3 separate regions of the Homo sapiens genome follow, and regions 2 and 3 are each linked to region 1. Evidence: fine-mapped expression QTL. A gene starts in region 1. Each other region holds a variant in brackets. All regions are shown on one strand. Distances are from middle to middle.

Region 1 (8,184 bases):
CATATGCAATTTTTTAAAATACACAAGAGATAATCTTTTCTGGATAAGATTACTGATGATTTTATTTAATTACAAATCATTGTATTTTCAAAATTTTGGACAAGGAACCTGTATCATTTTATAAGCAGAAGTCTAATTTAAATAAATAGAATTTTCCTCTTTTAAAAAAGGATATATAGCATGTCTTGAGTCTGGTTGCTGTTGCTATTGTAACCCCAATCAGAAATTCCAACTCTAAAATTTCATTTATACAGAGAAAGGTAATCCTTTGGATATAAATTATTATCTAAGTTATGAATCCAAAAATAGTGACTACAGTTAGAGAAAGGGCTTAGGCTTAAGAGTCTCACAGACCTAGCTCAAGTCCATGCATACCAGCTCCAATACATATCAGCTGTGCAACCTTAGGCAACCTTGTAATCTCTCTGATCCAGTTTCCTCATCTGCGAAATGTCCGTTATGAGGACTAAAGGGCTGCCTGGGCAGTAAGAGGCCAGGTGCCTGAGGGTATGCAAAGCCACAGAAAAAACCTAGTTTTCTTCTGCTTCTTCCAAATGTGATAAATGTACTCAGAGATAGTAGCTGATATAAAATAAATGGGTAACTTGAAATATTTTCAACTGAAAACAAATGCAGATAAATTTTCAAAGTAAAAAACAAGACTTGAAAGAAAGGCTGGCCACATCCATCCTTGCTCCCAGACATCCAGTGGGAAAAAAGGGGAGGAAAACGATTGGACTGAGAGATCCTCTGTAAAGTACTTAAAACTTGTCCTACAGCAGACACCCAATACATAGTAGCTACCATCATTACCCCTAAGTAGGTACGTACAATTCAATAAGAAAAGCACGCCATCTTCATATCTTACAGCCTAGGCATGGCAGCATGGCAGGCATTTTAACCGCTATATGTTGTTAAGCGCCCAATTCATTTTTTGGGGTACTGATATATATCACACAATCAATATGCCTTGTCCGATCAAGAAGTACATAAGTAATATAAGAAGCTGGAAAGAAGGCAAACAGTCTAACATAAAACCAAGTCTCCTCAATTTTGGTTGAAATAATTACTACCATGTAACTAACACCCAGACATACAAACCGTGCCCTGAAATCAGGGTGTCTCTGGTTTCCCAGTTCAATGTTCAGGAACCAAATCAGTGTGATGGGGTTTGGGTTGTTTGATTTGGAGAGAGGGAAAGGGATAGAGAAGGAAAAGACTAGGAAAGGAGGGACTGAGACTATGAAATTATTACCGTAATTTGAAATCAAAACGCACAAATTCTTTTCATTATTAGAAACAAGAATCTTGCCACTTCCACGAGGAATCTGGATAAAACCTGAGTTGGAATTTGACTGCATTTCAGCCACCCCTCGATAAGGGGGTGAGCATTGAGAAGCTGGAGGATAGAGCCAGTGCTGGATGAGGGAACACCTGATTTTCATTCAAATGTCAACCAGCTGCACAAACCACTCAATGAAGCTGTTCTTGAATTATTAATCATCTTTCCCTGAATGAGAGAAAATGATTCTTTCTGGTTACTTGCTCTGCTTCAGGGACCAATTCAGAGAACTCCAAGCCAGACTCGAGTTTGAGGGAGCTCTCTGGTACCTGACACCCTCTGGCCAAGGCAAAAACAGAAAACAGCAAATGAAGTATTGCAGAAGAAAAGGGAGTAGTTGGCCTTCTAGAATCCAAGTAACTCCCCATATCCAAAGAAGCTGAGAAAGTTCCTTTAAAGCACATTAGCAGAGGTTTGCTGCACTGCTTGGGCATGATCTAATCTGTATTCCTTTCTATTCTAAATCAGGTAAGTTTCCTTTTCCCTTAAGAACTGTCAACAACTTCAAGCCTCAATTTTCTACTATAGATTAGACCCAGCCTTGCAGAGCAGAGAAGGGAGGGTTTAAAATCCCATTACTTCTAAATAGCGGAATTGTTTTAATCATCCCCCAAATATCTATGTTTGGATTCCCTGTCACCCCCAGATTCCTAAGTCTACTGATGCACGGATTTACACAATCTGAGAAATGGGGGAAAGCTTAGCGACTATCCAGGTCAATTTTCTCACTTTAGAGATGTGGAAGGAAGCCAGCAAGGGTCTTTCCTAAGGTTACATGATCGGAAGCCACCTTCCTCCCCGAGTTTCCCCTCTCCTCTCTGTCAGAGCCCTGTAGCAGGAGCTGCTCTAGCTGCTTAGTTCTATTTTAAGACAAACTCTCACTCTGCAAACCACTTATAGAAAACAAGGGCATCTCACCCACCCTGCAATTTTCTCCACGTCTTCATTTTGGGTCATCCCCACTGTATGAGAGTCTGTGATGCTCACCAGAACCATGCCTCCAAGAATTCGTCTCAGGGTCCTTCTCTGTCACCTAGACGCTGGGCAGGGCAAGGCTGTTAAAGGTGGGAAATTATGCACTGGGGTGCTCCTTCTAAACATTTGGCCTTGGCCATTCTTCCCACCAGCCCTCTGAGGGTGAGGATAGGGGGCTTAAACAACCTCAGAGAAGGAAGCCTTGAGAGTTGCATGCACTCGCTAAATGTTGCACAGTCTTTGAGAGGACCGGCGTACGCACTCCTGCGCGCTCTCTCAGTACTTCTCTTCCCCTATTCAGAAGCTTGCGCTCCTCTATTCCCACCCACACCTAAAGAACTGGGATCCACGGCTGCCCTCCACCTGGCGTAGCCCCGGGAAGGGTGACAGGAAGCTTGTGTGGGCTGGGGACGCTGGGGGCCTAGCGGAGGTTCGCCACCTGCAGGGGGTCTTCAGGAGTCGGACTTCAGACGCCAAGAGGGCAGATGGAGGACACCGTCGTCGCTCTCCACGGTCTCTCTTCGTGACTTTCCTCCATGGCCTTAATGATGCCTGCCCTTCCCAGTCTCCCTCGCCTCCTTGCTCTTCTCCTTCTCGCCTTTCCCCCACCGCCTTCCACTTCGACCCCCATCGCCTGGTCTCCTTCCTCTCCGTGGGCTCGGCTTCTCCCTACCTCTTACAAGGCGCTCCCGTCGTGTTTCCACTTTGTCTCCAATTATATCTAAATGCAACCCACCACAGATGCTGACATTTTAAATGTTTAGTTATTATAGCTACTTGACTAATTGCCGGGACCGACGGCGGCGCTTCTCCTTCGCCTCCCGCCGGCAGGAGAGGACGGGGCGGGAGAGGAAGGGGTTAGTTGTGGTTGTAGCCGCCACTCCCCGGCGCCCGGGACCCGGGACGCCCAGTCGGGCCCTGCAGAGGGTGTCCTACCTGGGCACCAGCGGCCCCTCGCCTCCAGCCAGGGCACCGAAGGCGCGCCCGGCGGGATGCAGCGAACTGCCTCCTGCCCCGGGACAGTGGAGCGGCAGAAGGTCCAACCTTCCGGTTCGCCCACGCCCGCAAGGTGGAAAAAGTGGGGTGAAATCGGGGAAATTTAGCGAAATTGGGGCGAAAGAAGAGAGACCAAAGCGTGTTACTCACGTGCCAGATGGCGAAGAAGATGAGCGCAGCGCACAGCACCAGAGACAGCATGTAGCAGAACGCAGCGAAAGTGAAGGCCATGGCCGGCGGACCCCAATCCCACCACACACGCCAAGAAGCCCCTAGGAGCCCGATGCCTCCCTAGAGGACCGCACTCCCTCCAAGGAGCCGCGTCTGCACGCTCCTCTCCAGGCTAGTGCCCAGGAGGGCGCACAGCTAGCGAAGCGACTCGAGGGTCAGCGAATAAGCGCTGGATTCCCGCAGGCTCCGGCGACCCCAGACCCGGCCCTCCGGCGAAGACAGGAAAACGTGTGTCGAGAGTCGCTGGAGGGAACCGTCCGCAAATCGAAGAAGAAACCAAATCAGCAGCGAACACCTGCAAATTAGTGCCAAGCTGTGAGCCCCTCGAGACCAACACGACAAGCGATGCGACGACTCCACGGAGGACCGAGGGAGGAGGTCCCATTCGCCCCAGGAAGAGCTCTCTGCTTTTCTCCACTAAACCGCTGAGGAGAGACGAGCGCTCCGCTCCGGACCCTCCCGCGCCACCGGGGCGCAAACGGATAGTGTCCAGCGAGGTGCCCGAGCGGCCTCCGAGCTCCTCCCAAATCCCAGAGCCGGGCAGCGCTCTTTCCCGAGAGAAGGAGTCTTTAGGTAGCCGGGAGGAGGTAGGTCCCGTTGGTCCTGCGCCCCAGACGCGGCTTCCAGCGCAGCCGTGCGCTCCGAGGCGCGCCCGTCCCCAACCGTGACTCCGGCCAGCCGGCCTCCGCAACCCAAGTGTCCCGGAAACCGGGGGTCGGACCGGGGCGAGCACTGGCTCCACCCAACGGGCCAACTCCAGCCCGGGTGGCTGCAGCAGTGGGTTTCAGGCCAAACGCTGTAGCTCGCTCCACCTGCTGCTGCCGCTGCCGCCGCCGCCGCCGCCGCCTTTGCCACTGCGAGAACTGTAGCGGTGCGACCCGGGATTCCCTCCTCTCGGCGCCCCACCCTCGACTCCTGTTCCGCTGAGCGCGCCCTCCCCGGCGGGCGGAGACTGCAGCGCCGGGGGCTGAGGAAAGGTGGGTGGCGAAGCGCCGCCGGGCGCTTGGTGGCCGCTGCCGCCGCCACTGCAGCTGTGCACGCCCGCCTCTCGGAGGAAACTTGAAGCCAGCAGTACAAGCAGGGCTGGAGGCCGAGCGGAGGTGGGGCGGGACCGGTTGGAGCAGGGACTCTTTAAACACGTGCGTCTGGAGGAGGTGGGAAGCTGCGGAAGGGTATGGTGTGTGCCTCGCGCCTAAACGCCGCAGCCGCCCCTCCCGGTTCTTGCAGTTTCGCCTATCGGAGTGGGAAGTGTGGGGACTTGGGGCGTTGCCTAGTGTTGGTTGGGGATACAGTGCAAGCCTTGGATCCCAAAGCTGCTTGGATGGATTTTACCAAACTGTAGCATACTCAGTGCTTAGGGCTGCGTTTACTGCTCTGCTCCCAGACCCTGCAAAATTCTCCATTAACGTCCTTCCGTTGCATCCTCTACCCTCCCCAGCCATCCGACCTTGGGACTAGGGAAACGTGGACTTGGTGGGCTATTCTGCGCTGAAGAGGCAGCAACGAGGGCTCGGTGGTATTGGTGTTGGTCCTAGTGGAATTGTCAAGAGGATGCTTTTGAAGGTAGACCGTTTTCTAGCTGCAAGTTACCTAACCTCTTTAATCCTTAGTTTCCTTATCAGAAAAACATAAATAAGAGTAGAGTCAAGCCATTTCAAAGGATTAAAAGGGAACATAAGTAAAAAACCTAGCACTTGGTATACGTTCAATAAGTGGTAGGGATTATTAATTGCACCCTTTCCCCCAGTGGCCCAGCATCTTGGAAGTTCACCATGCTTGCTTTGCAAGAGATTCCTGACGCTGCAGTGAAAGAGGTCCAGTCATTCCAGAGAGAACTTCAGTTTCAGACAAGTCATCAAATCCAGAAAGCAAGGAAAAATACCCTGAAAGACGACTGGCAAATCTCGGTGAAAGAGTAGACGCACTTCATGGATTGGAGTGAATCTTAGAGCACCTGGTACCTTGCACAGGGTGGGAACTAGATAAATAACTATTGCTTGATTCTGACTCTGGTGTGCTAGTTTTCCTGTTCACAGATGTGATTCCAATGCCTTGAGAGCTGGAAGGGATGAATTCCAGCAAGATAGAGATACAGCTTTCTAGTGACAGAACTGGAATCCTGTCTGCGGACTCCTAATCCTGGGCTCTTTCTACTATGCCCCAACATTCCTGCAGCTATTTGGCCACATCTTTTACTTATTTATTTATTTATTTATTTATTTATTTATTTATTTATTTGACGGAGTCTCACTTTGTCGCCAGGCTGGAGTGCAGTGGCGTGATCTCTGCAACCTCCACCTCCCTGGTTCAAGCGATTCTCCTGCCTTAGCCTCCCGAGTAGCTGGGACTACAGGCACGCACCACCACGCCCAGCTAATCTTTGTATTTTTAGTAAAGACGGGGTTTCACCATGTTGGCCAAGATGGTCTCGATCTCTTGACCTCGTGATCTACCCACCTCGGCCTCCCAAAGTGCTGGGATTACAGGCGTGAGCCACCGCTCCAGGCCCTTCAATTTATTTTATTTTATTTTTTTGAAGACAGTCTTGCTGTGTTGCCCAGGCTGGAGTGCAGTGGTGCTATCATAGCTCACTGTAGCCTCAAACTCCTTGCTAGGACTACAGGCATGCACCACCACACCCAGATAATTTTTGTTTTGTTTTGTTTGCAGACATAGGTCTCAATATATGGCCAGGCTGGTCCCAAACTCCTGGCCTCAAGCAGTCTTCCAGCCTTGGCCTCCCAAAGCGCTGGGATTATAGGTGTGCACCACAGTGCCTGGCCTCATATCTCCCTCCAGTTTAGAAACTAGATGCCTTTCAGTGAGAAGTGGAGAAATTAGAGCAAATCCAGAGGCTGATGACCAGAGCAATGAACCGATCTACATTTTATTGCCTCTGGGTCAGGACCGGCTACATACTTTGGAGGGCCAAGTGCAAAATGAAAATGTGGGACTTTGTATTAGGCCGTTCTTGCATTGCTATAAAGAAATACCTGGCCAGGCATGGTGGTTTATGCCTGTAATCCCAGTACTTGGGGAGGTCGAGGTGGGCAGATCACCTGAGCTTAGGTATTTGAGACCAGCCTGGACAACATGGCAGAAACCCCATCTCTACAAAAAATACAAAAATTAGCCGGGTGTGGTGGCATGCACCTGTAGTCCCAGCTTCTTGCAGGGCTAAGGTGAGAGTGTTGCTTGAGCCCAGGAGGTCAAGGGTGCAGTGAGCTGTGTTCATACCACTGCACTCCAGCCTAGGCAATAGAGCCAGACCCTGTCTCAAAAAAAAAAAACAAAAACCTGAGGCTGGGTACTTTATAAAGAAAACAGGTTCAATTGGCTCACCGTTCTGCAGGCTGTACAAGCACGGCACCAGCATTTGCTCGGCTTCGGGGGAGGCCTCAGGGTTGCTTTTATTCATGGTAGAAGGTGAAGCAGGAGCAGGCATGTCACATGGCAAAAGCAAGAGCAAGAGAGTGTTGTGGAGAAGTGCCACACACGTGTAAATAACCAGATCTTGTGAGAACACTCTCTTTATTGCGAGGACAGCACCAAGCCATGAGGGATCCACCCCCATGACCCAGACACCTCCCACCAGGCCCCACCTCCAACACTGGGGATGACATTTCAACATGAGATTTGGGCAGGGACAAATAACCCAAACTATATCAAGCTTCTTGATTAAAAATTAATAATTTCAAGACAGCAACAGCAGAACATTAAGCCAAGCATGAGGCCCTTCTGAGCACAAGACCCTGGACAGCTGTAGAAGTTGAATGCCTACAAATCTAGCCCTGCTCTGGGTTATACCCTATGTTGCTTTCTCTTTTACAGAAGTATTTCTTCCAGTATAAATTGTCATTAAAGAAAATTTGGAGGTCAGGCACTGTGGCTCATGCCTGTAATCTCAGCACTTTGGGAGGCTGAGGCGGGTGGATCACTTGAGGTCAGGAGTTCGCGATCATCTTGGGCAACATAATTAAGACCCGGTCTCTACAAAAATGAAAATAAAATTAGCCAGGCATGGTGGTGCACACCTGTAGTCTCAGCTACTCAGGAGGCTGAGGCCAGAGGATTGCTTGAGCCCAAGAGGTCAAGGCACAGTGAGCTGTGATCATGCCACTGCACCCCACCTCGGGTGACAAAGCGAGAGCCTGTCTCAAAAATATAAAATAATTTGGAAAATATAAAAATGAAAAAGATAAACACCACAGTTTGCTGCTCTCAGATACCACCAACACAATCCTGGTGTATTTCTTTCTAGCTGTTTTTTTGCTTTTTATTTTATATAGATCATTTCTTTTCATTGTAGTAATTGTACTGTATAAAATTTCGTGACACCAAAATTCTGAGTCCCTTTGGGACCTCTCTGATCTTTTGTTTCTGCTGGTTCTTGTTTACGGAGTCCTCGCTTCTTATCCATCTAGTAGATTTTTACTGTGCCAAACTTGTTTTGAAAAGTTTTCTTACAGTCATTTGAGGCCTAAAATTATGTTATCTTTCTCCAGGGAGGATTTTCAACTTCTTTTGCCAGGTATCTAGGGGAACCTAGTGCTCCAGGATTACCTTAATCCAAATTCAGCATTTGAGATTTTCCAGGATGACCAAGATAACTGTGGTCTGTGTGAGGGCTGCTTTATTTC
Region 2 (8,184 bases), 140 kb after region 1:
GCCATGATTGTGAACCCTCCCCAGCCATGTGGAACTTTAAGTCCAATAAAACTCTTTCTTTTGTAAATTGCCCAGTCTTAGGTATGTCTTTATCAGCAGCATGAAAACAGAGTAATACACTGATGAACATCCACAAACATCAAGACTATCCAGGACCTCAGCAAACGAACTAAATAAGGTACCAGGAACCAATCCCAGAGAGACAGAGATATGTGACCTTTCAGACGGAATTCAAAATATCTGTTTAGAGAAAACTCAAAGAAATTCAAGATAATACAGAAAATGTATTCAGAATCCTATCCCATAAATTTAACAAAAATTGAAATAATTAAAAATAAGCAGAAATTATGGAGTTAAAAAATGCAATGATCTACTGAAGAATGCATCAGAATCTCTTAATAGCAGAACTGATCAAGCAGAAAAAAGAATCCGTAAGCTTGAGAAGAAGCTATTTGAAAATACACGGAGGAGACAAAATAAAAAAGAATGAAGCATGCCTACAAGATCTAGAAAATAACCTCAAAAGGGCAAATCTAAGAGTTATTGGCCTTAAAGAGAAGGTAGAAAAAGAGATGGGGGTAGAAAGTTTATTCAAGATGATAATAACAGAGAACTTCCAAAACCTAGAGAAAGATAACAATATTCAAGTACAAAAAGGTTGTAGAAAACCAAGCATATTTAACCCAAAGAAGACTACATCAAGGCATTTAATAATCAAACTCCCAAAGGTCAAGGAAAAAGAAAGGATTCTAAAAGCAGCCAGAGAATAGAAACAAATAACATACAATGGCAATATGTCTGGCAGCAGACTTTTCAGTGGAAACATTACAGGCCAGGAGAGAGTGGTATGACATATTTAAAGTGCTAAAGGGAAAAACTTTTACTCTAAAATAGTATATCTGGAAAAAAAAATCCTTCAAACATAAAGGAGAAATAAAGACTTTCCCAGACAAACAAAAACTAAGGGATTTCATCAATACCAGACCCTTCCTACAAGAAATGCTAAAGGGAGTTCTGCAGCCTGAAAGGAAAAGACATTAATAAGCAATAAGAAATTATCTGAAGGTACAAAACTCTCTGGTAACAGTAAGCACACAGAAAAACACAGAATGTCATTAACACTGTAATTGTGGTATGTAAACTACTCATATCTTAAGTAGAAAGACGAAAAGATGAACTGATCAACAAAAATAACTAAAACAACTTTCATGACATAGACAGTATAATAAAATATAAACAACAATAAGTTAAAATGCAGGAAGACAAAGTTAAAGTGTAGAGTTTTTATTAATTTTGGGGGTTTTGTTCATTTGTTTTTTGCTTGTTTGTTTATGCAGGCAGCATTGTCATCAGTTTAAAATAATGGGTTTGTGGGCATTTCAGTTACTCCATCTAAACTATAGGACTGGATTTGGGGTTCTCCAATATAAGCAGGCAGAAGAATCTCCTAAAGAATTTGTTTGAAATTCAGAATTCGACTTAGGAGATTAAGATGGTGGATACGAGGAAAGACTAGCTTGCGCGTCCCACTCAGATGGACAGAACAGCATGTGGAGACTCACATCGTGAACTTTTGCTCCAAGAACTACCATAGGAACATACCAAGAAAGCCGAAAGAATCCACACACCCTTTGAAGGAACTTCATCACCCCTGCAGGCTCCCTGAGATGCCAAAAAACTGTGAGTCCGCTTGCTTTCTCAATGGGGAGGCTCATGGGGAGGCTGCTTGCTTTCTCAATGGGGCAAGTTCTCAGCCCTGGTCACCAGCTGCTTAGAAATAAACTTGGTGCTGTTGCAGGGGCATGGTGGGAGTAAGATCAGCTTTAGGACTGTGGGCTGCTTGGGAGCAGGGTGAGGCCTGTAACTGCCGGCTTTCCCCCAGTTCCCTAGCAACCTGTACCTCGCATCTCAAAACTAACATTGAATGTAAATGTCCTAAACACTCCACCTAAAAGACACAGAATGTTCTTTTTGCTTAGGATAGCTTTGGCTATTCCAGGTCTTTTGTGGTTTCATATAAATTTTAGGATTTTTTTTTCTATTTCTGTGAAGAATATCATTGGTATTTTGATAGAGATTGCATTGACTCTGTAGATTGCTTTGGGTGGTATGGATATTTTAATAATATTGATTCTTCCAGTCCATGAACATGGACTATCTTACCAGTTTTTGGTGTCTTCTTCAGTTTCTTGCATCAGTGTTTTATAGTTTTCATTGTAGAAATCTTTCACTTATTTGGTTAAATCCTAAGTATTTAACCCATTTCCTATTCAGACAAAAAAAGTGCAGCTCGCTGCCAGTGCTCATTTCTCAGGGCAAATGGGTAATGGGTTAAATTTATTTGTAGCTATTGTAAATGGTATTACTTTCTTGATTTCTTTTTCAGATTGTTCACTGTTGGCATATAGAAATGCTACTGATTTTTGTATGATGATTTTGTATCCTGAAACTTTACTAAATTTGTTTACCAGTTCTGATAGTTTTCTTAGTGGAGTCTTTAGGTTTTTCTGAATATTAGATGTATTATCTGCAAACAAGGCTAATTTGACTTCCTCCTTCAATTCTGATGTCCTTTATTTCTTTCTCTTGTCTGTTTGCTCCAGTTAGGACTTGAATAACAGTGGTGAAAGTGGGCATCCTTGTCTTGTTCCAGATATTTGAGGAAATGCTTTCAGTTTTCTACTTTAAGTATGATATTAGCTGTGGGTCTGTCCTAGATGGCTTTTATTGTATTGAGGTATGTTCCTTTAATACCCACTTTTTTGGAGGATTTTTATCATGAAGGGATGTTGAATTTTTTCGAATGCTTTTTCAGCATCAACTTAAATGATCATATAGTTTTTGTCCTTCATTCTGTTGATATGATGTATCACACTGACTGATTTGCATATGTTGAAACATCCTTGCATCCCTGGGATAAACCCCACTTGGTAATGATGAATGCTTTTTTTAATGTGTTGTTGAATTTGGTTTTCTACTATTTTGTTGAGGATTTTTGCATCAATGTTCATGAGGAATATTGGCCTGTAGTTTTCTTTTATTGGTGAGGCTTTGTCTAGTTTACTGGTAATACTGGCCTCATAGTGCATAGTTTACAAGTATTAGGTTTACAAGTATTCCCTCTTCCTCTATTTTTTGGAATCATTTGAGCAGGGTTGGTATTATCAGTTTTAAAATATTTGGTAAAATTCAGCAGTGAAGCCATCAGGTTCCAGGCTTTTCTTTGCTGACGAAATTTTTATTATGGCTTCAATCTCATCACTTGTTATTTGCCTGTTCAGGTTTTGGATTTCTTCATGGTTCAGTCTTGGTAGGTTGTATGTATCTAGGAATTTATCTGTTTCTTCTAGACTTTCCAATTTATTAGCATATAATTGCTCATAGCCACTAATCATCCTTTGAATTTGGCAGTATCCGTTGTAATGTCTCCCTTGTCATCTCTGATTTTCTTTTCTTTTCTTTTCTTTTTTTTTTTGAGATGGAGTCTCGCTCTGTCGCCCCGGCTGGACTGCAGTGGCGCAATCTCGGTTCACTGCAAGCTCCGCCTCCTGGGTTCATGCCCTTCTCCTGCCTCAGCCTCCCGAGTAGCTGGGACTACAGGCGCATGCAGCCACGACCAGCTAATTTTCTGTAGTTTTAGTAAAGACGGGGTTTCACCATGTTAGCCAGGATTGTGTTGATCTCCTGACCGTGATCCGCCCGCCTCTACCTTCCAAAGTGCTGGGATTACAGGCTGAGCCACCGCGCCCAGCCTCTGATTTTCTTTTTTTTTTTTCTTTTTTTTTTGAGATGGAGTCTCCTTCTGTCGCTCAGGCTGGAGTGCAGTGGCACGATCTCGACTCACTGCAAGCCCCGCCTCCCGGGTTCACGCCATTCTCCTGCCTCAGCCTCCCAAGTAGCTGGGACTACAGGCGCCCGCCCACTGCCACGACCGGCTTTTTTTTATTTTTATTTTTTTGTATTTTTTAGTAGAGACGGGGTTTCACCGTGTTAGTCAGGATGGTCTCGATCTCCTGACCTTGTGATCTGCCCGCCTTGGCCTCCCAAAGTGCTGGGATTACAGGCGTGAGCCACCGGCCCGGGCTCCGATTTCCCTTATTTGGGCCTTCTTTCTTTTTTTCTTAGTCTGGATAAAGGTTTGTCAATTTTATCTTTTCAGAAAACCAACTTTTTGTTTCATTGATCTTTTGTATTGTTTTCTTCATTTCAATCTCACTTATTTCTGCTCTGATCTTTATTATTTCTTTTCTTCTACTTATTTTGGGTTTGGTTTGCTCTTGCTTTTCTAATTCTTCAAGATACATCATTATATCGTTTATTTGAAGTTTTTCTTCTTTTTTGATGTAGGCACTGATACCCATAAACTTCCCTTTTTTGATGTATGTCATAGTTTTTGGTATGTTGTGTTTCCACTATCATTTGTTTCAAGAAAACTTTTTCTTGAAAAACTTTTTTTTTTTTTTTT[TG/G]AGGCGAAGTTTTGCTCTTGCTGCCCAGGCTGTAATGCAATGGCACAATCTCGGCTCACCGCAACCTCTGCCTCCTGGGTGCAAGTGATTCTTCTGCCTCAGCCTCCCAAGTAGCTGGGACTACAGGCATGCACCACCATGCCCAGCTAATTTTGTATTTTTAGTAGAGACGGGGTTTCTCCACGTTGGTCAGGCTGGTCTTGAACTCCTGACCTCACATGATCTGCCCACCTTGGCCTCCCAAAGTTCTGGGATTACAGGCATGAGCCACTGTGCCTGGCCAAAACTTTCGTTTTTTTATCTCTTCATTGACCCACTGGTCATTCAGGAACATACTGTGTAATTTCCTTGTGTTTGTATAATTTCCAGAATTCCTCCTGTTATTGGTTTTTAGTTTTATTTTATTGTGGTCAGAGAAGATATTTGATATTATTTCCATTTTTTGAATGTTTTAAGACTTGTTTTGTACCCTAACATAGGGTCTTTCCTTGTGAATGATCCATGTGCTAAGGAAAAGAATGTGTGTTCTGCAGCCATTGGATGAAACGTTCTGTAAATATCTATTAGGTCCATTTGGTCTATAGTGCAGATTAAATCCAATGTTTCTTTGTTGATTTTCTGTCTAGGAGATGTGCCCAATGCTGGAAGTGGGGTGTTGAAGTTTCCAGCTATTGTTGTCTCTCTCTCTCTCTCTTTAGCTCTAGTAATATTTCCTTTACATACCTGTGTGCTCTCATGTTGGATGCATATATATTGATAATTGTTATATCCTCTTGCTGAACTGACCTCTTTATCATTATATAATGACCTTTTTGTCGCTTTTTATAGTTTTTGTATTGAAACCTATTTTGTGTGATATAAGTATAGCTACTCTTGCTCTTTTTAGGTTCCCATTTGCATAGAAGTGGTGAAGTGTATTTCTTTTAGGCATCAGATCACTGGGTCTTGTTTTGTTTTGTTTTGTTTTTAATCCATTCAGCCACTCTATGCCTTTTGATTGTTGAGTGTAGTCGATTACCAATTACTTATTTTATTGATAAGTAAGGACTTATTCCTGTCATTTTGTTGTTTCCTGGTTGTTTTATGGTCTTCTCTTATTTCCTTCCTTCCTGTCTTCCTTTTAGTGAAGGTGATGATTTTCTTGTGGTATGTTTTAATTTTTTGCTTTTTAATTTTTGTGTATCCATTGTACGTTTTTAAATTTGAGGTTACCATGAGGCTTGCAAATAATATCTTCCAAACCCATTATTTTATTTATTTTTTTAAATACAAACTAAGGCTTTTTCTTCAATTATCTCTATCATCCACAGTAAAAGGAAATAAGTCACCTGCAACTGATGCCAAACCCTCCTGCCAATGAGAGATAAGCAGCTCTGGGTAATTTCACATAGCCCAGCAAAGACAGTTTCCTTGAATTCTTATGAAAAATTGGCCCTAAAATCTATCAGGATGACTTATTCATGAGAATCATCTGAGATACCCATTATAAATATAGTTGTCCAGAATCTTAGGTGGTTGTGGGAGAGGAAAGCTCCTGTAATTCTGAATTTTGTGGTTTTTGATTTTTAATTTTTTTATTTCAATAGGATTTTTGGGGAACAGGTGGTGTCTGGTTACATGAATAAGTTCTTTAGTGGTGATTTCTGAGATTGTGGTGCACTCATCACCCTAGCAGTGTACACTGTGCCCAGCGTGTAGTCTTTTATCCCTCACCATCCTCAATCCTTTTCCCCAGGTCCCCAAAGTCCAATGTATCATTCTTATGCCTTTGCGTCCTGATAGCTTAGCTCCCACATATTAGTAAGAATATATAATGTTTGGTTTTCCATTCCTGAGTTACTTCACTTAGAATAATAATTTCCAATTCCATCCAGGTTGCTGCGAATGTCATTATTTCTCTCCTTTTTATGGCTGAGTAGTATTCCATGATGTATACATATATACCATGTTTTCTTTATCCACTTATAGATTAATGGACATTTGGGCAGGTTCCATATTTTTGAAATTGTGAATTGTGCTGCTATAAACATGCATGTGCAAGTATCTTTTTTATATAATGACTTCTATTATCATATAGAAAATGTGATATCACTTCATTTTAAATGGTTTTTATGCAAAAGACAGGCAATAACAAATGCTGGTGAGGATGTAGAGAAAAGGGAATCCTTATACACTGCTGGTGGGAATGTAAATTAGTACAACCACTATGAAGAACAATTTGGAGGTTCCTCAAAAAAACAAAAATAGAGCTATCATATGATCCAGACATCCCATTGCTAGGGAAATACCCACCCTCCCAAAAAAAGGAAATCAGTATATCGAAGAGATATCTGCACTTCCATGTTTACTGCAGCACTATTGACAATAGCCAAGATTTGGAAGCAACCTAAGTGTCTATGAACAAATGAATGGATAAAGAAAATGTGGTACATATACACAATGGAGTACTATTCAGCTATAAAAAAAAGAATGAGAGGCCGGGCACGGTGGCTCACACCTGTAATCCCAGCACTTTGGGAGGCCGAGGCCGGTGGATCATGAGGTCAGGAGTTCAAGACCAGCCTGGCCAAGATGGTGAAAGCCCGTCTCTACTAAAAATACAAAAAAATTAGCCAGGCATGGTGGCAGGTACCCGTAGTCCCAGCTACTTAGGAGGCTGCAGCAGAGAACTGCTTGAACCCAGGAGGCGTAGGTTGCGGTGAGCCGAGATCACGCCACTGCACTCCAGCCTGGGTGACAGAGCGAGACTCCATCTCAAAAAAAAAAAAAAAGAGAGAATGAGATTCTGTCATTTGCAACAACATGAACAGAACTGGAGGTAGTTATGTTAAGGAAATAAGCTAGGCACTGAAAGACAAACTTTGCGTATTCTTACTTATTTGTAGGAGCTAAAGATTAAAACAACTGAACTCATGGAGATAGAGCGTACAATGATGGTTACCAGAAGCTGGGAAGGGTAGTGGGGGAGTGGGGAGGAAGAGGGGATGGTTAATGGGTACAAAAAAATAGAATGAATGAATAAGAGCTAGTATTTCTGCCAGGCACTGTGGTTCACGCCTGGAATCCCAGCACCTTGGGAGGCCAAGGCGGGCAGATCACATGAGGTCAGGAGTTCTGGTCTCGAACTCCTGACCCTGTCTCTACTAAAAATATAAAACATGAGCTGGATGTGGTGGCGTATGCCTATAGTCCCAGCTACCCGGGAGGCTGAGGCAGGAGAATCACTTGAACCCAGCTTGCAGTGAGCTGAGATTGTGCCACTGCACTCCAGCCTGGGCAACAGAACAAGACCTCATCTAAAACAAACAAACAAACAAACAAAAAACCTAGTATTTGCTAGCACAACGAGGTGACTATAGTAAAAAATAATTTAATTGTACACTTTTAAATAATTAAAAGAGTACAACTAGATTGTTTGTAACACAAACGATAAATTCTTGAGGTTATGGATATCTCATTTATCCTGATGTGATTATTACATATTGTATGTCTGTATCAAAATAGCTCGTGTACACCATAAATATACATACCTACTATGTACCCCCAAAAAAGAAACAATGCAAGCAAGAAGACAATGGAACAACATCTTTAAAGAACTGAAAGAGATGGCCAGGCATGGTGGCTTGTGCCTGTAAACCCAGCGCTTTGGGAGACCGAAGTGGGAGGATCACTTGAGCCCAAGAGTTCAAAACATAGGCAGATCCCATTTTTACAAATA
Region 3 (8,184 bases), 150 kb after region 1:
TAAAATAAAAAAGAAGAAAAGTCATATGACCATATTGATATAGAAAAAGCATTTTACAAAATCCAGTTCCCATTCACGTGCACAAAAAAAAAAAAGTTTCACAAACTAGGATTAGAGAGGAACTGACTCAACTTGATAGAGAGCATCTACCAAAAAACTACAGGTAACAGCATAATTAGTGGTGAAAGACTGAAAGACTGAATGCTTTCCCCCTAATATCAGGAACATGGCATCACCATTCTTTCTTTTTTTTTTTTTTTTTTTGAGACAGGGTCTCACTCTGTCACGCAGGCTGGAGTGCAGTGGCAGTGGCATGATCATAGTTCACTGCAGCCTTTAACTCCTGGCCTCAAGTGATGCTCCCACCTTCTCCTACCACAGACGTACTCTCATCATTCTTATTCAACACAGTACTGAAAGTTCTAGCCTATGCAATAAAGAAAGAAAAACAATAAATGCAGACAGATTGGAAAGAAAGAAATAAAATTGTCCCTATTTGTAGATGACAATTATCTACACAGAAAATCCTAATAAATCTATTTTTAACTGCAATTTTAAAAATTAATAAGGAAGGTCACTGGACACAGAATCAACACACAAAAATCAACAAACATGTAGAAACCAAAGCTGAAAACACAATACCATTTACAATTGCTACAAAGCAAATGAAATACTTAGTTATAAATCTAACAAAACATGTATAAGAGCTGTATGCTGAAAATTACAAAATGTTGATGAAAGAAATCACAGAAGACCTAAATAAATAGAAATACTGTGTTTATGACTTAGAAAACTCAACACTAAAAACATCAATTTTTCCCAAATTGATTTACATAATTCCTATCCAAATTCCAGCAAGGCTTCTTATAGATATAAATAACTTATTCTAAAATTTATATGGAAAGGTAAAGGACCTAAAATAGTTACGACAATTTTGAAAAAGAAGAATGTTGTAAGAAGAATCATTCTACCCAATGTTAAGGCTTACTAAATAACTTCAGTAATCAAGACAGTAGAGTACTGGTGGAAGAATAAATATGTAGATCAATGAAATATAATAGAGGAAACAATAGAATCACAAAAGAATGTACAACTGATTTTTTTAAAGAAAAAAGGTACAAACATGATTTAATAGAGGAAGGACGGCCCTTTCAACAATTGGTGAAGAAAAAAAAAAAGTCTGTAGGCCAAGAAAAAAAAAGAAGAGCCTCATACCTTTTACAAAAATTAACTTAAAATGAATCATTGATTTAAACATACCATGTAAAACTATGAAACTTTTGGAAAAAAAAAAAACAGGAGGAAATCTTCAAAACCTACGGCTGGGAGAACAGTACTTCAACTTGATATCAAAACTATGATCCCAGCCAGGCGCAGTGGCTCATGCCTGTAATCCCAGCAATATGGGAGGTCGAAGTGAGTGGATCACCTGAGGTCAGGAGTTCGAGACCAGCCTGGCCAATATGGTGAAACCCCGTCTCTACTAAAAATACAAAAATTAGCCGGGCTTGGTGGCACCTGCCTGTAATCCCAGCAACTCAGGAGGCTGAGGCAGGAGAATTGCTTGAACCCAGGAGGCAGAGGTTGCAGTGAGCTGAGATCGCACTATTGCACTCCAGCCTAGGCAATGAGAGCAAAACAAAAACAAACAAACAAACAAACAAAAACTATGATCCAGGAAAACTTGATAAATTGGACCTCTTAAGAATTAGAAAATTTTGCTCTGTGAAAGCTCCTGTTAAGAGAATGAAAAGAGCCAGGCATAGTGGCTCACGCCTGTATTCACAGCACTTTGGGAGGCAGAGGTGGGCAGATGGCTTGAGTCTAGCAGTTCAAGATCAGCCTCAGCAACATTTCCAGCAGTTCAAGAAATGTCTCTACAAAAAACAGAAAAAATTAGCTGGGTATGGTGGCACACACCTGTAGTCCCAGCCACGTGAGAGGCTGGGGTGGGATGATCACTTGAGCCCAGGAGGTCAAGGCTGCAATGAGCCATGATCACACCACTGCACTCCAGCATGGGTAACAGAGTGAAACCCTGTCTCAAGAGAATGAAAAGATAAATTACAGACTGGGAGAAAATATTTGCAAGCCAAATATCCAACAAAGGATTTAGTATCTAGAATATAAAGAATTTCCAAAACTCAACAGTAGAAAAGCAAACAATATAATTAGCAAGTGTACTAAAAACATTTCACTGAGGAGTAGATACAGGTAACAAGCTAATAAAAAGATGTTCAACCTCAGTGATTAGGGCAATCTAAATTAAAACCACAATGCATTATCACTACATGCCTAACAGAGTGATAAAATAAAAAATGTCAAATTCTGGCAAGGATATGGGAAAAACTGGATCACTCTTACATGGCTGGCAGGAATGTAGAATGGGATAGCTACTCTGGAAAATATTTTGGCATTTTCTTTTAAAACTAAAAGTGCACTTACCATACAACCCAGCAATTGCACCCTTGGGCATTTATCCCAGGCAAATGAAAACCTATATGCGCTCTGCAATCTATACATGAATGTTGATAACAACTCTATTTATAATAGCCAAGAACTAGATACCACCCAAATGTCCTTCAATGTATAAATGGTTGAAGAAACTGTAGTACATCCATACCACAGATACTACTCTGCAACATAAAGGAAAAAACTACGATAGAATTAGGCCTTGGCTGGTTCTCAAGGGAATTATGCTGATTGATTTTTTTAAAAAGCTACAGACTGTATGACACTACATAAGTGATTCCATTTACGTAATGTATTTGAATAACAATATTAAAAGATGGAGAACAGAAGAATGGCTGCTGGGGTTATGGACTGGGGAGAAAGAAGGTAGATGTGACTATAAAAGCATCAGGGAGGCTTATGGTGATGAAATGGGTCTGTATCTTGATTGTGGTGGCAATTACACAAAGCTACATGTATGATAAAACTGCATAGAACTACATACACACACAAATGAGTGCATGTGTAACTGGTAAAATCTGACTAAACCCTGTGGATTGTACTAATGCCAATTTCTGGGTTTTTGTTTTTCGTTTTTTGTGTTTTTTTGAGAAGGAGTTTCATTCTCATCACCCAGGCTGGAGTGCAATGGCGAGATCTCAGCTCACTGCAACCTCCGCCTCCCAGGCTCAAGCGATTCTCCTGCCTCAGCCTCCCGAGTAGCTGAGATTACAGGTGCCCGACACCATGCCCGGCTCATTTTTGTATTTTTAGTGGAGATGGGGTTTCACTATGTTGGCCAGGCTGGTCTCAAACTCCTGACATCAGGTGATCTGCCTGCCTCAGCCTCCCAAAGTGCTGTGGTTACAGGCGTGAGCCACAGCACCCGCCCAATTTCCTGGTTTTGATACGGTATGTAGTTATGCAAAATGTCAACATTGAGGGAGGAGGGGTGAAGGATGCACAGGACCTTTCTATACATTTATTTGCAATATCCCGTTTATAATTATTTCAAAATAAAACATCTAAAAAAGAAAACTGGCTGTTCAAGCAAAAATAATAGTATAGACTGTGGTTTATAACAAATGTGTAAGTAAAACGTATGACAACAACAGCATAAAAGCTATGAGGAGGGAAACAAAGGTAGACTCCTGTAAACTTATGTTATGTGTGAAGTGATACAATATAACTTGAAGGTAGACTGTGATGAGTTAAAGATAATTCTAACCAGCCAGGCATGGTGGGTCACACCGGTAATCCTAGCACTTTGGGAGGCCAAGGTGGGCAGATGACCTGAGGTCGGGAGTTCGAGACCAGCCTGACCAACACGGAGAAACCCCGTCTCTACTAAAAATACAAAATCAGTCAGGTGTGGTGGTGCATGCCTGTAATCCCAGCTACCTGGGAGGCTGAGGCAGGAGAATCGCTTGAATCCAGGAGGTGGAGGTTGCGGTGAGCCAAGATTGTGCCATTGCACTCCAGCCTGGGCAACAAGAGCGAAACTCCGTCTCAAAAAAAAAAAAAAAGATAATTCTAACTATCTTGGCTGGGTGCCTCAGCTTACATCTCTAATCTCAGCACTTTAGGTGGCTAAAGTGGGAGGGTCGCTCAAGTCCAGAAGTTTCAGACCAGCCTGGGCAACATGGTGAGACTGTTTCTACAAAAAATCAAAAAATTAACTGGGCCTAGTGGTACACACCTGTGGGCCCAGCTACACGGGAGGCTGAGGTGAGAATATCACTTGAGCCCAAGAATTAATGACTGCAGTGAGCTGTGATCACACCACTGCACTTCAGCCTGGGCAATAGAGCAAGACCCTGTCTTTAAATAAAATAAAATGAAATAAAATCTTTAAAAAAAAGAAGAATACAGCTGGAAGACTTATGCTACCTGACTTCAAGATTTATTTAAAAGCTACAGGAATCAAAACAGTGTGGTTTGGTATAAATAAGGAAAATAGATAAATGGAACAGAATATGGAAATCAGAAATAGATCCATACATAAATGGAGAACTAATTTTTTACAAAGGTGCCAAGGCAATCCAATGGAGAAAGGATAGTTTTTTCAAGAAATAGTTCTGGAACAATTGGATATCCACATGCAAAAAAGAAAGAAATGAACTTTGATCCATAACTCACACCATACATAAAAATTAGCTTAAAGCCAGGCACGGAAAAGTATTACCTATTCAAAAATTAAACTAACTAGCTGGGTGCAGTAGCACATGCCTGTAGTCCCAGCTACCTGGGAGGCTGAGGCAGGAGGATCCCTTGAGCCTAGGAATTTAAGAACAGCCTGGGCAACATATAGAGACCCCATCTCAAAAAAAAAATCAATTCAAAATAGAGCATTGACCTAAATGAATAACCTAAAACTATAAAACTTCTAGAAGAAAACACTGGAGAAAAATTTTGTGGCCTTGGGGCAAAGATTGCTTAGACATGACACCAAGAGCATAACCCATAAAAAATAAATATAAAGTGAACTCCATCAAAATTTAAAGGTTAAGCTCTTCAAAAGATACTCCGAAAAGAATGAAGACAATCCAGGTCGAGC[G/A]CGGTGGCTCACACCTGTAATCCCAGCACTTTGGGAGGCTGAGGTGGGCGGATCACAAGATCGGGAGTTCGAGACAAGCCTGGCCAATATGGTGAAACCCCGTCTCTACTAAAAACACAAAAATTAGCCAGGTGTGGTGGCATGTGCCTGTAGTCCCAGCTACTCGGGAGGCTGAGGCAGGAGAATGGCTTGAACCCAGGAGGCAGAGGTTGCAGTAAACTGAGATCATGCCACTGCACTCCAGCCTGGGCGACAGAGCGAGACTCCCTCTAAAAAAAAAAAAAAAAAAAAAAAAAAAAAAAAAAAATGAGGACAATTCATAAGCTGGGAGAAAAATCATCACAAAGCACATATCTGATAAAAGACTTGTATCAGGCCGGGCACGGTGGCTCACACCAATAATCCCAGCACTTTGGGAGGCTGAGGCAGGCGGATCATCTGAGGTTGGGAGTTCGAGACCAGCCTAACCAACATGGAGAAACCTCGTTTCTATTAAAAAATACAAAATTAGCCGGGCATGGTGGCACATGCCTAACCCCAGCTACTCGGGAGGCTGAGGCAAAAGCATCGCTTGAACCTGGGAGGCAGAGGTTGCTGTGAGCAGAGACCGTGCGATTGCACTCCAGCCTAGGCAACAAGAGTGAAGCTCCGCCTCAAAAAAAAAAAGACTTGTATTCATGCTAATAACTCCAAAAATTAATAACGAGAAAACAACACAATTTTTTAAATGGCCAAAGGATTTTTAACAAAACATTTTAACAAAAGACTGACCATCCCAAGAGTCAGCAAGGATATGAAGAAACCGGACTCTCACACATCATTGGGAATGGAAAACAGTACAAGCACTTTGTAAAACATTTTGGTAGCTTCTTAAAAAGTTAAACAGGCCAGGCACAGTGCCTCACGCCTGTAATCCCAACACTTTGGGAGGCCGAGGCGGGTGGATCACGAGGTCAAGAGATCGAGACCATCCTGGCCAACATGATGAAACCCCATCTCTACTAAAAATACAAAAATTAGCTGGGTGTGGTGGCACACGCCTGTAGTCCCAGCTACTCGGGAGGCTGAGGCAGAATTGCTTGAACCCAGGAGGTGCAGGTTGCAGTGAGCCAAGATTGTGCCACTGCACTCCAGCCTGGTGACAGAGCAAGACTGTCTCAAAAAAAAAAAAAAAAAAAAAAAAGTTAAACATATTTTGGGAAACCAAGGCAGGAATATCACTTGAGCCTAGGTGTTTTGAGACCAGCCCATGTCTACAATAAAAATACAAAAAATTAGCCAGGTGTGGTGGTGCGTGCCTGCAGACCCAGCTACTCAGGAGGCTGAGGTGGGAGGATCACCTGAGCCTGGGAGGTCGAGGCTCTGGTGAGCCGTGATCACACCACCACCCTTCAGCCAGGTGACAGAATGAGACCCTATCTCAAAAAAAAAAAAAAAAAAAAATTGGGTCCAGACCTAGTGGTTCACACCTGTAATCCCAGCATTTTGGGAGGCCAAGGCGGGCGGATTGCTTGAGGCCAGGATTTCGAGACCAGCCTGGCCAACATGGCAAAACCCCATCTCTACTAAAAATACAAAAATTAGCCAGGCGTGGTGGTGGGTGCCTGTAATCCCAGCTACTCAGGAGGCTGAGACAGGAGAGTCGCTTGAGCATGGGAGGCAGAAGTTGCGGTGACCCAAGATGGGGCCACTGCACTCCAACCTGGGTGACAGGGCAAGACTGTTTCAAAAAACAAAAAAAATTTAAACATAACAGGATTTTTAGGGCAGTGAAACTACTCTGTACAACACTACGATGGTGGATACATGTCATCATTAAAGGTTTGTCCAAACCCATAGAATGTACGACACCACATGAACCCTACATTAGGGTAAGAGTGAACCAACCCTACTGTAAACTATGGACTGAGTGATAGTGATGTCAATGTAGGTTCATTGATGGTAACAAATACACCAACGGTGCGGATGGTGATAATGGGGGAGGGTTTACATGGAGCAGGGCAGGGTGTATATGAGAACACCCTGTACTTTCAGCTCAATTTTGCTGTGAACCTACAACAGCTCTAAAAAGTAAAAGTCTTTTTTTTAAAAAAAAGGAAAGAAGTACTGATAAATGCTACAACGTGGATGAACATTGAAAACACTGTGCTAAGTGAAAGAAGCCAGTCACAAAAAACTATATACTGTATGACTCCATTTATATATGTCCAGAATAAGTAAATATATAGAAAAAGAAAGTACATGATTAGTGGCCTACAACTGAGGCATATGGAGGAGAGAATGGGAAATGACTGCTAATTGATATGGGTTTTCTTTTGGGGTGAAATATTCTAAACTTAGATTGTGGTGCTGGTTGTTGCACAACTTTGTTAATCTACTAAAAACCAATGAATTGTGTCCATTTTAAATGGGTGAATTTTGTAGTATGTTAAAATCTTAATAAAGATGTTTTAAAACTGTTTAAATCACTATGGTAACTGAAGAAATCATTTATGTAAGGTATATGCATGTGAGGAAGAGATATATACTCAGAAGTAAATACATACGTCCATAGGTTCAATAAATTCCTTTTAGTTATGATCTTAAATCAGAGGTAAGCAAAGGGAAGCAAGTGTGCCTTGTGTGCTGATACTATTCTATAGAATACTGGTATGCTTATCTCCCCTTAAAGAAAGGGGAGTAAAAGCCATACTGGCTATAAACTCATGTTGTTTAAAATGTATAATGCATCAAAAATAAGTCTGTATTAAACATCCTTTGTTTAAAATATACAATGGAGGCCAGGCACAGTGGCTCATGCCTGTAATCCAAGCACTTTGGGAGGCAAAGGTGGGTGGGTCACTTGAGGTCACGTGTTCGAAACCAGCTTGGCCAACATGGAAAAACCCCGTCTCTACTAAAAATATAAAAATTAGCTGGGTGTGGTGGTGGGCGCCTGTAGTCCCAGCTACTCGGGAAGCCAACGCACAAGAATTTCTTGAACCCAGGAGGTGGAGGTTGCAGTGAGCTGAGCTCGCCCCACTGCACTCCAGGCTGGGTGACAGAGTGAGACTCCATCTCAAAAAAAAAAAAAGAAAAAATTAAATTTAAATAAAATATACAATGAATTAAGGGTAAAGTCATAATAAAAACAACTGGCTGGATGCAGTGGCTCTCGCCTATAATCCCGGCTACTC

Which allele goes with the higher level. Positions count from the first base shown, and alleles are read on the strand shown. Sizes are in standard deviations (SD) of each study's normalised expression. Not every link is listed here.
In carriers of allele A in region 3, the expression in skeletal muscle of the gene that starts at base 4,402 in region 1 tends to be lower than with G alone (small effect, 0.30 SD a copy in GTEx).

What was found. PIP is the estimated chance that this variant, and not a neighbour inherited with it, causes the effect. A credible set is the group of variants that fine-mapping cannot tell apart.
Region 2: its variant is the best candidate, but not a certain one, in a credible set for the expression of CNIH3 in whole blood (INTERVAL, PIP 0.67).
Region 3: its variant is the best candidate, but not a certain one, in a credible set for the expression of CNIH3 in skeletal muscle (GTEx, PIP 0.55).

Annotation. Positions count from the first base shown.
Region 1 is chr1:224,612,535-224,620,718 of GRCh38, reverse strand. CNIH3 (cornichon family AMPA receptor auxiliary protein 3) reads right to left here and starts at 4,402. Exons shown (of 6, transcript NM_152495.2): 1 at 3,464-4,402. The coding sequence starts at 3,544. CNIH3-AS2 (CNIH3 antisense RNA 2) reads left to right here and starts at 4,492. Exons shown (of 4, transcript NR_183287.1): 1 at 4,492-4,521; 2 at 4,983-5,107; 3 at 5,292-5,515.
Region 2 is chr1:224,470,647-224,478,830 of GRCh38, reverse strand. It overlaps a transcript of CNIH3 not described here. Among named protein-coding and RNA genes, the nearest start is that of WDR26, 40 kb to the right of the region's middle. RefSeq lists a silencer at 4,672-4,841. The variant TG/G (reference allele first, on the strand shown) is at 4,466.
Region 3 is chr1:224,460,905-224,469,088 of GRCh38, reverse strand. It overlaps a transcript of CNIH3 not described here. Among named protein-coding and RNA genes, the nearest start is that of WDR26, 30 kb to the right of the region's middle. The variant G/A (reference allele first, on the strand shown) is at 5,009.